Linked DNA regions of Homo sapiens: region 2 is linked to region 1. Evidence: fine-mapped expression QTL. A gene starts in region 1. The other region holds a variant in brackets. All regions are shown on one strand. Distances are from middle to middle. Region 1 holds the start of BDKRB1-AS1 (BDKRB1 antisense RNA 1). Region 2 overlaps BDKRB2 (bradykinin receptor B2).

Evidence for each region. PIP is the estimated chance that this variant, and not a neighbour inherited with it, causes the effect.
Region 2: its variant is fine-mapped to the expression of BDKRB1-AS1 in transverse colon (GTEx, PIP 0.97).

The regions. Positions count from the first base shown.
Region 1 is chr14:96,265,575-96,270,946 of GRCh38, forward strand. It overlaps BDKRB1-AS1 (BDKRB1 antisense RNA 1), which reads right to left and starts at 3,006. Exons shown (of 2, transcript XR_007064322.1): 1 at 2,795-3,006. RefSeq lists an enhancer at 3,081-4,280.
Region 2 is chr14:96,223,895-96,229,266 of GRCh38, forward strand. All of the region lies in intron 1 of BDKRB2 (bradykinin receptor B2), which reads left to right. Among named protein-coding and RNA genes, the nearest start is that of BDKRB2, 22 kb to the left of the region's middle. The variant G/A (reference allele first, on the strand shown) is at 2,550.

The DNA of each region.
Region 1 (5,372 bases):
CAAGTATCGGGTAATGGCCTCTCTTATTACACTTCCATTTGTCTATTCAAAGCTTTCTAGGCTAACTGCCAGGAATACAGGGATGGTATAGCTAGAAGTTCTATATTCAAGGAACTTACATACATCTAAATATTATAATATAAAAAATGAAATGAGAAATTGCATGAACACACCACGGATCCAGCATCTTGCGCCTTCAGCGAGAAAGGGGATGGGTTCCCTCTCAGGTTAGCAGAGAAGACGCTGTGAAGGGAGTCAGCCGTGAGCCTGGTTTCCACAAAGGGTGCAATCTGGATACGTGGAGACAGGGAGGAAGGGCTGGCAGAGGCGGGAAAGGGTGAGCTGCTCACAAAAGAATGCTTGTGCATGCTCTTATTGAACGTGTAATGCATTGGTGCGGGTCTTGCTATGAGAGACCCAACGGTGAGCCTAACGGTGTCTCTACCCTCCAGGGGCTCACAGCAACCAGGACAATAATTAAGGGATTGTCATAGAGCAGGATGCCCGCCACCATCAGGGTGAGGGGTGCCGTGAGAACCAGAGCAGGGCTCCAGTCTGGGTGGCTGGGAGGGATGGTTAGAGAGGGGTTCCTGGAGGAAGAGACACATAAACTGAATCCCAAAAAATGAGAAGCTGGCCAAGCAAAATGGGGGAAAGGAGTGTTCCAGACAGAAGGAACAAAGTAGGCCCAGAGGCAGGTGGGGTTACAGGTTAGGAGGGAGAGGTTGAAGGATGGCAGAGGAGGAGGCGGGTCATGGAGAGAATTGGGGCTGGAGGAGAATGGACAGGCTGGGTCCACCATGGTCAGCTGGCAAAGACAGTTCACCCAGGAAGGATGGTGGGCTCCAGGCAGCTTTGAGGGCCCCATTGAAGCTGGAAAGCGTGGCTGTGTTGTGTGAATTTACTCTGATAATGCTCGACAGACCCAGGAAAGGATTGCTCTGGAGTAGGGTTTAGCCAGATAGACGGCCATACGTCATGGGAGTTGGGGATCCTGGTCAGACTCGGGGGAATGATGGAGAGGGAAGAAACGAGCACAGGGAGAGAAGGAAGTGAAGTGAGATCAGTGTGTTAAAGGATGGATATAGTGAGAGAACCTGGGTGACAGCAAGAAACAGAAGAAGAGCCAGGCGTGATCTTCTGTACACTGTGAAGGGAATCAGCCGTGAGCCTGGTTTCCACAAAGGGTGCAATCTGTAATCCCAGCACTTTGGGAGGCTGAGACAGGTGGATGGCTTGAGCCCGGGAGTTTGAGACCAGCCTGGGCAACATAGCAAGACCCCGTCTCTACAAAAAATACAAAAATTATCCAGGCGTGGTAGTGCGCACCTGTAGTCCCAGCTACTTGGGAGGCTGAGGCAAGAGGATCATCTGAGCCCAGGAGGTCAGGGCTACAAGCAGTGAGCCAAGATTGTGCCACTGCATTCCAGCCTGGCTGACAGAGTGAGACCCTGTCTCATTAAAAGAGAGAGAGGAAGGCATAGCCACAGAGCAGGAATGTTTGAGTAGAACATTCCAGAGGCAGAGCCATCTCAGGAGATGACAAGGACCAAGTGTATCCCTGGCACCAGGTGGCTGAAGTAGAGGGAAGAAGAAGGAGGTTGGAGACAACATAGAGAATGGAGAGGTCAGGTGGTGGGTGGGCCCTACCTGGGCCCTCACAGGCAGGCGGGACATTGTCAGGCCCTGGGGAGGAGAGAGTCCGTGGGCCAGGAGGCCATTCCAAGGTCAGTTTCCATGGAGTGGGGGAGAGGGTGTAGTGACTGGACTCCAAGACACTTGGGGGAATGGGGAGAATGGCAGTCCCCACAGCTGCACGGGAAGGGCTGGTCCTCACAGAATAGCAGCAAAGACTCATTCATTCCAGGAATGGAAAGAATGCCATGTTCTTGGAGCCTGGAGACAGGGTTTGAGAGGCTGGCAGCGGCTGGGCCACCAGGACCTCATCAGTGATAACCCTGTGATCAGTGTTCCAGCCCCTGCAGGTTTCCTGGAGAGCAGAGTGTCGTCAGAAGGCCTGGAGCTGAGCCAACAGGCAAGATCCAGCCTGCACATGTGTTTAATTTGAACCACATGGTATTTTTTAAAACTCCAAGCCCCCAGGCTCTTGAGTTGGTTACCAGTACTGAAACTCCCCATTGGGAGCCAGCTTTCCAGTTTCTTTTGAAAGTTTGGAACATCCAGCAACACTGATTCAATTTCATTCATTCAGCAGATATTTATTAAGCATCTACTTTGTCAGACACTGTTTTGGGCACTGAAAATATGGCAGTGAACAAAAGAGAGGAACATCCCTGGGCCCTTGGAGTTGACCTTCCAGGGTCCCCCCGGGGCTCCAATTCTTTGGTGCTGTGTAGCAGAGGCCCCGTGAACAGGGCGCCCTCCCATCAGGTTCACACGCATGGAAGCTATGGGAGGTTAAGTTTGCAACCCCTCATCCAGACCATCCCTTCACATACAGTCTAGGAAACAGAGAGCAGTAAGACCTGCCCAAGCACACCCAGTGCGACTCAGCAGCCACACACAGGAGTAGGCTCAGTCATCTCATTTAATCGCCTGACTCCCTTGTGAGGTCTGTTTCAGGATGTCCACTTTCTAGGTGAGGAAGAGGAGGCTAAGGAAGGCAGTGCCTGCTCAGACTGCAGAGGCTGGATTCACCCAACTCATCTGACTCCAACACCAATGTGATTTCCAAGCCCCCAGGCAGGAATTCATTGGGCAAAGGCTCTGTGGCAAAGTGGCAAAAGTAGGCAGGAACAGGCAGGAATAGAGAGTGGGAAAGGGAAAATAATACCTGATTCCTCTTCTATTCCGAGTGAGCTGACCCACATATGCCCTCCTTTCTTCTTTTTCAGCCGGCCTTAAGCAGGTGGCTTATCAAAATCCTTTCGAGGTCTTGCAAAAACCAATCCCACACTCGAGAAGAACGTGCTGGCCGGTGAAATCGGACAACATTGCTCACGGGATGTAATTCAATGGTAGACTGCAGCCACAGCCTGAGAACTCAGACACCTGATTTATGAGACGCACATAAGTAACGTTTACCGAAGCCCAGCAAATGGCCCCACAGTGGGAGAGAAACTGGCAAACCCGTACAGTAGAATTCTGTTGCCCTTCTGTGGGGAAGGCCAGTTATTCATTTACAGAGGGAGAAATTTCTGCCTTGACTAAAAGGATCGATGCTGTGGGAAAAGGTAATATATCTGAGTTCCCATGGATCTGGTTGATAGGTTCACCTGGCGTGTTCCATATGGGGCCAGGCCCAGGCCACACCTGTGGTGCTAACACCTGGGGTGGAGGGAGGAATTAGCAAATAGTCTTCCAGCATCCCCAGCTCCAGCACCCATGTGGGCTTCCACTCTCTCCCTGAGAAGGGCCAAGTAGAAAGAGAGAACAAGGTTTCACTCCAATCCGTTCCCAGCTCTGGGTCTGTCCTGGGCTCCAGAACCGCGTGATCAGGGGCCATATGTGGCCTTCACTGCTCTCTGCAGTGGGAAGGTAAGAAAACTGCCCCCACCCTGCCCCATCATCACCCCAATCCATCATGGGGAGTGGGTGGCACTAAGGCCCTCCAAATCCCAGCCTCGGGGAAACTCCCTGATGTTGCAATGGCCACAGGCAGGCTCTTGCTCTCCGGAGATGAGTCACAAATTTGATGAGGAGCAGGTCGGAAGCAGCCCTGGAAAGTGTTCCTCCCCACCCCTGCTCCCACCACAGCTCCGAGGAGCCTGGGCATCCAACCAGGGCTGATCCAAGCCTTGGCTCCGGCTGAGCTCCGCTCTGGCCTCTGTGCACCTTCAGCTCCTTCCTGCCCTTCTCTTTCCCTGTGCCCAGCCCCTTTCTCCAGACCCCCTTGATTCCTTCTCAGCATCCTCTTGCCTCCCCGGACCACCCCCAGCTCAGGCCCCTGCCCAAGAAGGGCCTCACCGCGGGGCTGCAGAGTGCACAGTGCAGCCGGTCAGAGGTCCAGGTCTCTGAGTCACACATGCCACTGTTCCAGTCCTCACTCCACCACCGCATGGGCCTGGCCGACCACCGAAACTCGGCATCCCATCTGTAAAATGGGAATGAGGAGAGCAGTGCCTCACTGTGTCGTTGTGAAAATTAAGTGACCCAAAAGGACGGCCTTATTCCCTTTTTGGAAAGAGGTAATGGGCAAAGAAAGGGAAGGAAAGGCGAGAAAGGACAAGAGGAAGGTCAGAGATGTATGTGAGACACCAGGACAGCGCCACCCCAGCAAGCACCAACAACCATTTTCTCCTATGAGCAGAAGAGGCTTTAACTATGACTGAAATGAATGCATGTCAAAGCACAGTCTGAATAAAATCCCAAAAATGGTGTCCGTGTCACTCTCCTGGTTGTGATATGGCACGATCCTTGTGTAAGATGTTACTATTGGGGGAAACTGAGTAAAGAATAATGGGGCCGGGCACAGTGCTCATGCCTATAATCCCAGCACTTTGGGAGGCCGAGACAGGCAGATCACATGAGCCCAGGAGTTCAAAGACCAGCCCAGGCAACATGGTGAAACCCTGTCTCTAGTAAAAATACAAAAATTAGCCAGGCATGGGGGTGCACACCTGTAGTATCAGGTACTTGGGAGAATGTGGTGGGAAAATCAGTAGAGCCCAGGGTTCAAGGCTGCAGTGAGCCATGATTGTGCCATTGCACTCCAGCCTGGGCAATAAAGTGAGACCCTGTCTCAGAAAAAAAAAAAAAAAAAGAATGAGTACAAGGCATCTTTCTTATCACTGTATGCAAATCTACTAAAAACCTTAAAAAGAATGCATCATTAAGTTCAACCACTCTGCCTTACAGATGAAGAAACCAAGGTCCAGAGACAAGCAGACTTGTCCAAGGTCACCGAGTAAGCAGGGCTCCTGCTGAAGGGCTCTGTTCAGACCCAAGATGCCCGCTGGGCCCTGGTGACAGGTCTCAGTCTCAGGCTGAGGTCAGAGAAGAGGCCTGAGTGCCAGGGTTCTCATTTGAGTGGCCATGATGATTGCAGAGACTCCCTATGGCCAGGATTGTGTTTAAGGCAGTAAACAGGAAGCCAAGCCTACTTTTCAGGAGCTTCAGGGGACAGAAAACTATCAGGAAGGATTGGTTGGGACCCAGCAAGTACGAGAGGAAGACATTTCAGGGCTTCAGTCAACAAGGGGCTCAGTGTACTGTAGCTGCCAAAATAGCTGCCAGCTCTCAGCTGCATTCAAAGGAGTATAGCCTCTAAAATGAGGAAGGTCATATTCCCTTAATTTAGCACTGGACAGGGTCCATTAGGAGTATTGTGTCCAGCTCTTGGCTGATTCCAAAGACAGGGATCAGACTGGTGAGAGGATGCAACAGCACACCCTCCAGACACATGGCGGCAG
Region 2 (5,372 bases), 42 kb before region 1:
AAAGTCATTTGCATTCTGATTCAAGAAAACCAGCTGTGAAGAAAGTAGCGTGAAATTCATATGATTGAAAGTTGTAATACTTCCTGGATAGTTGATGCCATTTAGGAATTATTGTCAGTTTCTTCGAGATGTGATAATGGTTGTCTAGTTATGCTTTCTGAAATAAGAGTCCTTAGCTTTTAGAGAAGAATAGTGAAATATTTACAGATGAAATGACAGACATGCAGGATTTACTGCAAATATTACAGGAGGGGTAAGGTAGGTTTGGGCATAGAGAAAAAGATTGGCTGCGAGTTGGTAATTACTGAAGCTGGGTGAAGTATGTGGAGTTTCATTATGCTAGTCTATCTACTTGTGGGTATATTCCAAATTTTCCATAATAAAAAGTTAAAAAGCAAAAAAAAGAACCATCATCTCCACCTGAGGTTCTGGCCCAGACTGCTTATGTTCAAATCTCAACTCTAGTCTTGCTAGCTGTGCCTCTGTTTGCTCGTCTGCAAAATGGGGATGATAATATTAGTCCCTACATTGCAGGGGTTTCTCTGTAATGTGCTTAAAAATATGGAAACAATATAAATGAAATGAAGATATGTTGCAGGCACTTTGCACATTGTCACGGTGCTCCCAGTGCCTTGTTCCAGGGAGGTTATCCTTATTTACCAAGAGGTTAAGTCACCTGCCCTAGGTCTTCCAGTCAGTGGAGGCAAAGCCAAGACATGTCCCGAGTTCATCTGACTTCTGAGTTCAGGCATGACCTGAATGTTCTTGCCTCGGGCTCAGGGCTCAACATTTCCTGTCTTCTCTGCTTCTCCAGTCCTGAGAGATTCTGGGCCCGTTTCCCTGCAGATCAGCTCTAAGGAACATGCTTCTCTCCTGCTCCTTTCTAGAAAAGGCGTAACATTGGCAGAACCAGGAACTCTGGAATTCTGAAGGTTGACTCCCTCAATTCCAAGGGGCTCCACCTCCTGAGCGGAATTGGATAGAAGACAAAGGTCACATGGCTAGGGTGAGGCTTTGAGATGGGCGAGACTGTGAGCAGGACTGACAGGTCAGGGCCAGGACCCAGGATCTTCAGAAGCCACAGGGAGCAAGGCAGGGAGCAGCCTCCTTTGTGCCACACCCAGTGAAGGGGAACTTGCTAAGACAGATTTGTTCCTCCCATCTCCAGAAGAGCCGTTGGATGCCAATGGGTGAGGAGCTGAACCTCTGCAGACTCAGTGTGCTGATCCCATTGCCTCTGCTTGCATGCCTCTCAGGATGGGGAGTTCACTGCATCCCCCTCTTTAAAGACATTACGGTTGTACAAAGGTCTCCAGAATCATCTGTTACATCCCCTCATTCTCCCAATGAGGAAATTAAAGCTCAGAGATGCCGAGGCATTTACCCAAGGGCACACCTGGTCCTGGGCCTACGACCCTTAGACAATATTCCTTCCACCTCTTTGCTATAGAGTCTCAGACTAGGGATCTTGGCTGGCTGAGAAATCAGGGAAGGCTTCTTAGAGGAGGTGAGATTGGAGGTGGCCCTTGTAGGGTGGCACTAAGATGTCGCTTGATATCCTAATTTTTTTTTTGGCCCTGCCCACCATGTGTGTGCCTGTGCTGCCATGTCACACTAAGCAGAGTAAAATGAAGGAAGGAACGGATGAAAGGGGCAGGAAAGCGACTCCCAGGAGCTGAAAGGGCAATAGTATAGGTCCCTTCAGCACCTAGGATATGTTGTGGGAAGCCCTTAGACCCCAGATACTACCCTGTGCAGATAGGGATAAAACTCCACCTGTCCCAGCTCAGTGCTCTCCCCGGCTCCTCTGGCCTGCTTGCTGGGCAGGGCCCAAACCAGTTCAGGATTCCTTTTTCTCTGTGACCTACCAGTTAGGGTTCTCTGTTTACTGTGTCTCCTCCTCCTTGTTTTGTATACCCAGCTGGGTGGGAAGAAGGTCACAGCCCAGGTTTGCACGTGGTGGAGGAGCAGGGCCAGTAACTGGTTAGGCAGAGACCCCGCCCACCACCCTCCACTCCCACCCTAGCAGGGCCTGTGCCATCCCCAGGACACCGGAGACCACCAGGGGGCTGGAGAGGCTGCGGGAGAAACAGCCTTCCTGGACACACCCAGCTACGGCTCACTTCCCAGCCTGAGCTGTTCCTTAGGAATTGCTTTTCTGGGAAACACACCCTCTTCCAGACCTGCAGCCTTCCTTTCTATGTGGTTTTTGGTTTTGCTCTCTGGTGAGGGTTTCTATTTTTTCCTGGTATACATGAATGGCATGCAGGAAAGTGGAATGAGGACATCATGACCACCATGCAAAGGCCATTGCTCTTAAGGTTTGATGTAAGCTCCCCACTCTCCACCCCCACTACCCCTCTGCCTCGGCCTGGGGTATGAGGTCTTGGTTTTGACAATCAGACAATGTTAGCACACTGCTGTGTCTTCCACCTGCAATGGAGCACTGTAGGACGATTTTAAAAAGCAAAGTGGCAGGCCAGGTGCGGTGACTCAAGCCTGTAATCCCAGCACTTTGGGAGGCTGAGGCGGGCGGATTACCTGAGGTC[G/A]GGAGTTCGAGACCAGCCTGACCAACATGGAGAAACCCCCGTCTCTACTAAAAATACAAAATTAGCTGGGCGTAGTGGTGCATGCCTGTAATCCCAGCTACCTGGGAGGCTGAGGCAGGAGAATTGCTTGAACCTGGGAGGCAGAGGTTGCAGTGAGCCGAGATCGTGCCATTGCACTCCAGCCTGGGCAACAAAAGTGAGACTTGGTCTCAAAAAAAAAAAAAATTACAAAGTGGCTGAATACCAAGATCCTAGGAACTAGGTTCAGCCAAACTGGCTGTGTGTCCTGGTAGAATGCCCACCCTCTGTCTCTGGGCCTCCATGCCCATCTCTGTAGCATGAGGGATTCTGATGAAATAATTTCCAAGAGCCCTTCCCACACTAATACTCCAGGATTCTGTAAGGTTAATTTGGCAAGAATTCCAACGGCGGAAGAAAGATGGAGGGAGGAATATGTCCAGTCTAATAACCCTATGCTCAAGTCAGAAAGCCCCTCGGGCAGTGTCCGAGAGGGCTACAGCCCTGGCCCCAGAACCTGAGTCCCTCTAACCTGGGTCAAACCCCTAAAAGCCACTCCAGCAAGAGACAGGCAAAGCCCGGGCTCTTGCTCCAGGCTGGCATTGCCTTGCCGTGTGGCTGTAGACATCGTTTCACCTCTCGAGGCCTCAGTTTTCCCTTCTGCAAAAGACAGGCTGGGGGAGGTTGGGCATTTTCTTCTTAACTACCAGGAGTCTTTCCTCCAATAAAATTGTGATGGAAACCGGATGTCACACAAAGGGAAAGGAAACACTGGCATTTCTGGAGTGTTTGAAGCATGTGAAGTATTGTTTAAGGGCTTTGCAATCATTAATGTACTTTGTGCTCACATTAACCCCACAAAGTAGGTGCTATTATTATCCCCATTTGACACATGAAGAAACTGAGGCCCTGAGGAGTTAAGCCACTTGTCCAAGGTAAAGAGTGGGAGCTGGGCTTCTGATAGGGAGTGGGCCTCAGTCATGAAACCACAAGACTTGTGTAGTTCCAACCCCCTGGGGACATCTCCAGGCACTTGACCCATGCTCTTCCAACATTCATGTATGCACGCACACGTGTACACACACGTGCACACACAAACACACACATGTGTGCACAAACACATGCATGCACACACAAACACATGCATGCACACACAAACACACACACATATATACACACACCAACACAAACACACATGTGCACAAACACACGTGTGCACACAAACACACACATGCACACACACACACAAATGCACACACATGCGTGCACACTGTGGCTACTCCTCTGTAGCCTGCTGGCCACACTCGGCTCAAGCCCCAAATCAAAGGTGACTAGCAAGATTGCGAGACAGATTTCTGGAGATGGGAAACTGCGTCATCAAATTGTCTCAGGGACGGAACACCCATCAGAGCCCTGGGGGAGAGAAGAGACACGGGGTGGCTGCCAATTTTGCTGACCTATGCTGCTGACTTTCCAGCAGCCCCCGACTCCTGTGGCCAGCTGAGCCCAGGTCCAAGCTGCCCCCTGCACAGGGCTTGTTCCCTGGAGGGCTATAAGCCACAGCATCCCCTCCAAGACAGCCAGTCCTGTGAACCTGCTCAATCCCTCACTATTCCTTGGGGCCTGCCCTGGGAGAAGGGAGAGTTCCCTGGACCCCTTCTTGGGACTTGCGGTGACAGGGGTGTGGCTCACTTGCTCAAATCCCTTGTGTGAGGGGAAGCATGCAAGCAAGTGGGTGCTGGGGCCGGGGCAAGCGCTTTTGGGCTCTGGCCCTACAGTACCGTCTAGGGTTGTGTTACAATTAATGCTCTTTTAGAAGTTGCCATTCACTGATGGCTAAGTGTTAACCAACTCAGTGGAGAGTGAGGGTGACAGCCTTTTACACCCTGCCCTCTTGGTACCTGGGTCCTTGTCTGGCATCCAGGAAGAATCAGGTCACACGGACTTGAAGGATGGTGAATGCAGAGGTTTTATTGAGTGATGGAGGTGGCTCTTAGTCGGGTGGGGAGCTGGAAAGGGGATGGAGTGGGAAGGTACTCTTCCAGATGGCTGAACTCTTCTCCAACTGTCCAGCTGCCTCTTCCACATTCAGACACTTCTTCTCTTCTCTCCTTCTCTGCCATGCTGCTCTGCTCCTCTGCCAGTGGAGTTTGGGGTTTTTATGGGTATAGGATGGGGGGCATGGTGGGCCAGGGTGGTTTTGGCAAAAGCAACACTCAGGTGGGAAAACAGGAATGTGAAGTTCTCATTTAGGGCCGTGGGCCCAGGCTTGTGGGTGGGGCTTTTGCCAGAGAGCTGTCCTCCTCTACCCAGTATTTCCCTGCCTCCTGTCCATATCACCTGCACCAAGAACCTCACTGGGTGGGAGCCAATCCAGAGCCAGAGAAAGGACTTGACACTTGGCCTCAGGCAGACCCAGGCTTGAATCCTGGCCCTGCCTCTGATGAGCAGGGTGACCTGAACTGTCTCAGGTTGCCTCGCTGACTCTGCTTTCCCATCTGGAACATGGGAATAGCAATGCATCAGCCACTCAGTGCAGTGTTGAGGCTGGAACAGGTGGGGCACACTGTGAGCTCCATTTCCTTTTGCCTCCACCCAGCAATTATGTCTGCTGGGGAGAAGAGGAGAAATAAGGATCACACCCTGCCCTCTATCAGTCAGTCAACGACCATTTATTAAACACCTACTAGGTGTCAGGCACTTGACAGAGAAATGAAATAACAACACAAGCAACTCTTATAGCTATACCCTATAATAAATGTTATAGAAGCAGGAGGCAGGTAGAGGTGGAAGAGAACCTTCTGC